Homo sapiens: one gene and its partner. The protein of the gene in region 1 purifies or fractionates together with the protein of each later gene. This does not show direct contact. Each region holds a gene or a part of one and is shown on either strand. Other genes may lie near its edges.

Region 1 (3,500 bases):
CCTTTTTCTTCAGCTCCCATTGCTATCACATGTTTTACCAGAGGCTTGGACATCAGGAAAGAGAAAGCAGATGTCCTCTGCCCAGGGGGCTGCCCTCTTGAGGAATTCTCTGTGTATGGGAACATAGTATATGCTTCTGTATCGAGCATATGTGGGGCTGCTGTCCACAGGTAAGCCCAAACACACCAGGGTGGGAGAGAAATGCAGACGTGATTATTTCCTTTCCTGCTTTACCCATCTGGATCCCTTTCCTCCCTGCATTCTTTCTTTTGTTGCCATTGTGGCCACAGAAAATGGATATATTTTCACGGTTCTCCTGGATATACTTGAAACACCAAATACACATGGAAAGCTTTCTGACAAAAGGCAAATAGCATTACCTCTTGATGGCTAGATTGCTATGATTCCAAAACATTCCTAATCATGTGATATATTACTGAGTTATTACTATGTGCCACCTATTGTTTTAACTTCCACCACAACTCTACAAGGTAGGTAGAATTTTACTCCAGTTACAGATGAAGAAACTGAACTCAGAGAGTTGTCAAGTATCTTGCCCAAGGTGACTATTGTTAGCAAGTGCCATGCTATCCTGTAGTAGAATAGCCAGTATAATACTTCTAAAAAAATTCAGTCCAAAGGCATGTAGCTAAAGTGAGTATCTTAGGAAAATTGTTTGGTGCTCTGAATTTCTAAGTTGTGGGTAATGGGATATTACAAATGTGTTCTTATCAACACTTAAGAAGTTCAACAGCACAAAACCATTTTTTTCCAGGCAAATTTTGTTCTTGTGTAAGCAAGTTTTTAAAAGGCTAGCAGCAGCTGGGAGTGGTGGCTCACACCTGTAATCCCACCACTTTGGGAGGCTGAGGCGGATGGACCACTTGAGGTCAGGAGTTCGAGACCTAGCCAACATGGTGAAACCCTGTCTCTACTAAAAATACAAAAATTAGCCAGGTATGGTGGTGCATGCCTGTAATCCCAGCTACTTGGGAGGCTGAGGCAGGAGAATCACTTGAATCCTGGAGGTGGAGGTTGCAGTGAGCCGAGATCGCGCCACTGCACTCCATCCTGGGCTACAGAGCGAGACGCCATCAAATAAATAAATAAATAAAGCAGAATCTTTAGATGACTTCCCTGATGAGCTATTTTCTTGATTAATCAAAGCAATAGATACAACATGGCACTATAAGTCAGTGGGATGCCCTGAAAAAGTGTGGATAGCATCTCAGCTGCTATTCTTGTGTTACAGGGGAGTAATCAGCAACTCAGGGGGACCTGTACGAGTCTATAGCCTACCTGGTCGAGAAAACTATTCCTCAGTAGATGCCAATGGCATCCAGTCTCAAATGCTTTCTAGATGGTCTGCTTCTTTCACAGTAACTAGTAGGTATAATTATTGTTCTCATTCTGTAATATTCTCCCACCCCCCAAACGTTTTCTGCTTTTTTTAGCTCAGCCTCTTTAACCTTGATGGAAAAACCTGTGATCAAGACTAAAGCTGACCTATAGAGGTAAACTGTAGGTTAGACTGAGGGGTCAAGTACCCACTGAAGCCAAATTTGGGTGAATAGAAGACAATCTTACTGACAGATGATGGCAATAGAAACTTGAATTATTTGCAGTCAGAATGCCCGGACACTTACCAAGGAACTGAAAAACTACTAAATACATTTTTGATGATCCTTTGAAGATATAATGGATAAGCATTTTGGTTCTCTGAAACTAGCATGCAGCAGGATGTTTGTAACTACAATCACCATTACCCTATTACATTTGTCATTGTAGAGAGCTCTAAATTAGATTCATAATACTTTGGTAAAGAAGGAAAAGGAAAAAAATAAGCTTATTTTTATTTTAACAGAAGGCAAAAGTAGTACACAGGAGGCCACAGGACAAGCAGTGTCCACAGCACATCCACCAACAGGTATGAACTATGAAACCTATCTCCTAGTTGCCCGGCACAGCATTTGGAAGTTATGAATAAACGTGTTGTTGGTAGAAGCTTTTCTTAAAGAAATTTGATATTAAAGAGAAACAAAGCAAATACCTTAAGTTTACTGGTATATTACATATGGAAACATTCATTATGTGTATATTTTAAAGACAGGGTCTCACTCTGTTGCTCAGGCTGGAGTACAGTGGTGCAATCATAGCTCACTGCAGCCTTAACCTCCTAGGCTCAAGCAATCTTCTCACCTTGGCCTCCTGAGTAGGTGGTACTACAGGCACATGCCACCACACCCAGCCAATTTTTTTGATTTTTAATTTTTTTTATTTTTATTTTTTTAGACAGGTCTAGCTATGATGCCCAGGCTGGTTTTGAACTCCTGACCTCAGGCAGTCCTCCCACTTCAGCCTCCCAAAGTTCAGGGATTACAGGCATGAGCCACTGCACCCAGCCTAATAATTCTCTAAAAGTCCTATTTTCTCCCAGATTTGATAAACCACGCCTAAGAACTGGTCAAAGTACCATGAACTTCTAGTTCCATTTGCTTCATTAAATTCCTTTAATTACTGCACTGTCATGTGACTAAAAGGAATGTGTGTCTATTGTAAGAAATAGCCAGGGATCCCCTTTTGTATGACGATGGCAGTTTTAAAGTCAAAGATATTAAGAACATTAGGATTTAATGTTGAGTTCCTGCCTCACCTGTGGGTTTGGGGTATTAAAGTCCTGGATTAGGGCATATCAAATATGTAGGCCTACATACTGATTTGTTTATTTGTTGGGTCATTGCTTTCCCTAGTCCAGAAAATCCTGAGGAAATTAATTTTTTTAAAAAAGTCCTTTCAAGAATGGCACTCTGTTGTTATGAGCTTCTCCCCATGTGGGTTTCTTGCTATGTAACTGTCTTCCTTTTGTTAATGCCAAGTGCATCTTTTATTTCAGGTAAACGACTAAAGAAAACACCCGAGAAGAAAACTGGCAATAAAGGTAAGAATCAAGATCTCCATTTGGGAAGGTAGCATTTTCCCTCCCTCCTCTTGAGACTGCTAATGAGGGGACTGGTTTGGTTGTTCGCAGATTGTAAAGCAGACATTGCATTTCTGATTGATGGAAGCTTTAATATTGGGCAGCGCCGATTTAATTTACAGAAGAATTTTGTTGGAAAAGTGGCTCTAATGTTGGGAATTGGAACAGAAGGACCACATGTGGGCCTTGTTCAAGCCAGGTACCAACCTTGTTAAAATGGGAGATTTAAAAAAAAAATTATTTTGTAATTGACACATAATAATTATATATACTTATGGGGTACATAGTGATGTTTTCATACATACAATGTATAGTGGTCAAATCAGAGTAATTAGCATATCCATCACCTCAAACATTGATCATTTCTTTGTGTTGGATACATTCAAAATCAAATGAGGCCGGGTGCAGTGGCTCACGCCTGTAATTCCAGCACTTTGGAGGCCAAGTGGGTGTGTGGATCACCTGAGGTCAGGAGTTCAAAACCAGTCTGGCCAACATGTGAAACACCGTCTCTACTAAAAAT
Region 2 (3,100 bases), on another chromosome or scaffold:
AGGTCGCCAACTTGCCCTCAAATGGGTCAGGAAAAAATGTTCTCTTACTGTGCCTGTGACTTCTGCACATTCTGAGAGTCTTTGAACATAAACGTGTGTGCAGAGCTGGCGACATTCTGTTGCTGAGATGGACTCATCTCTGGTTCTGCGCACGAGAGTTTGCCAACTGCAGAAGTAGAATTGTGCAATTCCAATTAATAAGTATTGGCTCTGAGTGTGTTTATTTTTCCAGGAAAGTAACATGTTTTTAAACAGGTAAATACATTAGTGTGGCATCATAATGCTCTATTCCAAGTTAAAAGGGTAAAGGTTATTGTCCCAACATGGAGAAAATTCCAGAATTAAGCATTTAAAATAATAGGACCTACCTGTTGATTTGCCAGAGAAATTCCAACAGTTTCAAAAAACTGTTCAAAGTAAGAGATGATGGCACCAAACACAGCAGGACTTCTCGGCCCTTCAGGTTCCTGTAAGAGATCATGTCGCAGAAGCTCCTTAAAAGCAGTCTTGATGGCAGTGGGCAAACGGAATTCAATGTCAAAAGACAAAGGCTTCAGCAGGTCACTTCAGTCTGGCCTTTCTCCTGGCTTCTATGGAGGGAGGACACAGCTCTGGCATCGGCTACCTCACTGCAGACCATACAACTATAGGTGCATGAGGAATCTCTTGTGCCTCAGTTTACCCATCAGTCATGTGGGTGGTGACTAGCTCATCAGGCTTCGCGGGTGAAGCATGACCGTGGAGTATGGCAGGTGGCGCATGGTAGGTGGAGGCTGAGTGGGCACTGGGCTGGGTTTCTCAGAAAACGGGGAAATCCTGGTACGTGGCTCACATCAGTTACCAAGCACAGAGACCCTTGGGTGACACTAGCCTTAGTTTGCAGGTGCCCCAGAATTGCAAAGCTTGGGAAGGAAAAGCGCAGGACAAAAGCCAGCCTCTTTACTTGTCCCGCCCCTTGCCACAAGAGGCCCCTGTTGCCCTAGAGCTGGGCCAGCCTGGTAGTGCCGGCAGCAGCTGCGGTGAAGGCAGGAGGCCGCGGACGGGCTGAGGAGGAGGAGCTCCCGTGCAGGAGCAGCCTGGCTGCGGGACCTGCCCCAGCCCGGCCTGGCTGCCTTCAGTGCGGGGCAGCCTGTTCCTGCAGCCGGCTGTGACTCAAATGCCCGCCCCCCTCAGAGGCGAGCCCTGCGCGTCTGCAGTATTTGGACCGAAGGCACCCGGCAAGGGCACATGGCACCCTGCCCCACCTGCTGGTGCTCTGAAACCCAACACTGCACGCAGCCAGGGATGGAGACCTCCACAGAGATGCTCAACTAACAGAGCATGTGGCCAGAACCCCCAGGTGTTTCCAGAGGTGGGAGAGGCACAAACAGCCTCGGCTTCCCGGGTCATCAAAGGTCACGGGGCTCCTGACGCAGCGCCTCCCAGGGCCTGGCAGGGGACCCTCAGACGTGCAGGAACCAAAGCCTGCCGCCGCCTTCACGGTCTTTGTCCCACCTGCCAAACACTTGCAGTGACCCACGAGTCCAGGCTCAGACCCCTGGGTGCTTGGTGTGGTCATCACACTGGGGTGCAGATTGCATAACAGTGCCTTGGGGTAAATGGGTCTTTCCTTAAAAAGTTCCCCACAAAAGCTCTCTCTGTGAAAGGGCCATGAATGCAGTGGGGACATGAGATGTGTCCCCTGAGGATCAAGCACACAGAATTTCTCAGCCTCAGGGGCTCCTGAGAGCTTGTTCCCCAGGTGGCCCTGAGGCCCGGGAGGGTCAAGCCCCAGGCTGGGTGCCATCCCGTGTGTCAGCGGCAGACTCGGGCTCCATGAGTTCCTCCACAGAAGCTGCGGGAGGCGAAATCAGCAGAGATGCCACCCAGCCGACATGAGAAAAACCCACCAGAGGACCCGACCCATGCCCCTGGCAGCAGGACCGCAAGGCCACCTGTTCGTTGAGCTACCTTCAGGGACGCCCTGAGCTGTCCATTCCCGTGGTGTGCAAGGCCCAGGATGGCATCAACCACCCTGGGTGTGTCAAAATCATCTGCCAAGGCCGCCTTCACGGCCCTCTTGGTGCTGGAGAGCCTGAGGGAAGAGGAGAGAACAGTCACAGCAGAGGGAGCTCCACTCTCCCCAGGCGGCCCCCACACCAGTCCTTCCCCAGGGAGAGACGCTGGGGGCTCTAATCTGGGGACTTTCTCTAGGTCATATTCCCAAAGACTTGAGTTCCTGAGTAGCAGAAAATTATGTAACATCAACTGCAAACTGTCATGTTACCCCAAGAAAAAGTCCCAGAGCAGAGGTCACCTGTGACACTTAAAATACAAGACACACGTGGGCATTTTCATGATGGTTTTAAAAATCAATAGATATTGAGGGGAGTGGCAAGGAAGACTCGGTGGGGGAGAGACGGCACGGCTGACCACTCACAAAGAGAGGCTGGGGAGGCCCAGCCCGGGGCTCCCGGATCTCAGCCTCCCGTGGCCACTGGCTGCCTACCCTGCTGAAGTGGCAGGGGTGGGTTATCACCAAGACCATCCGGAAGACTCTGCATGCCGGGATGAATGTGCAGCGCTGCCCAGGACACCCGTGGGTGGGGAGTGGAGGCGATGCTGTGGGCCCAGGCCTGTGTGTTTTATAGATTTTGGCTCCTCACAGTCAGGACTGGGAGGGATGAGCAGCTCCGCTCCTCGCACAGGGAACCCGAGCCCAAAGCCACTCTGAGCAGGGGGCTCAGAGCCCGAGGGCCCCAGGCACACTTCCTGCCAGCGCCGTCTCCCTGGGATGTCTCGGGAGCCCCTGACCCCACACCTCCTGTCCAGCACCCAGTGTCCTGTGGCCTCTGGGGAGCCCCTGACCCCACACCTCCTGTCCAGCTCCCAGTCCCCTGTGGCCTCTGGGGAGCCCCTGACCCCACACCTGCACCTCCTGCCCAGCACCCTGTCTCCTGGGGCCTCTCTGGGCAGTCCCTGACCCCAAACCTCCTGTCCAGCGCCCTGTCTCCTGGGGGCCCCTCTTCCCCTTCAAGAGCCCACCAGCAGCACCCAGCAGGCCACAGGAGGGGTGCCACGCCGGGTGCTAGGCGGGCCTCTTACCTCTCCCACAGCATCG

Evidence for each region. Proteins that work in one complex are often made in the same cells at the same time.
Region 2: the proteins of COCH (region 1) and CARS2 purify together in Homo sapiens (affinity purification with mass spectrometry; one large-scale study listed by BioGRID and IntAct). This does not show direct contact.

The regions. Positions count from the first base shown.
Region 1 is NC_000014.9:30,877,559-30,881,058, forward strand, and holds part of COCH (cochlin isoform b precursor), read left to right. Parts: intron 1-13; coding exon 14-170; intron 171-1,252; coding exon 1,253-1,386; intron 1,387-1,864; coding exon 1,865-1,927; intron 1,928-2,893; coding exon 2,894-2,938; intron 2,939-3,028; coding exon 3,029-3,176; intron 3,177-3,500. UniProt on the Homo sapiens protein: Plays a role in the control of cell shape and motility in the trabecular meshwork.
Region 2 is NC_000013.11:110,644,017-110,647,116, forward strand, and holds part of CARS2 (probable cysteine--tRNA ligase, mitochondrial), read right to left. Parts: coding exon 3,085-3,100; intron 2,616-3,084; coding exon of another isoform or gene 2,345-2,615; exon of another isoform or gene 2,081-2,344; intron 2,075-2,080; coding exon 1,951-2,074; intron 591-1,950; coding exon of another isoform or gene 567-590; exon of another isoform or gene 468-566; coding exon 369-467; intron 167-368; exon of another isoform or gene 49-166; intron 1-48. UniProt on the Homo sapiens protein: Mitochondrial cysteine-specific aminoacyl-tRNA synthetase that catalyzes the ATP-dependent ligation of cysteine to tRNA(Cys). In addition to its role as an aminoacyl-tRNA synthetase, has also cysteine persulfide synthase activity.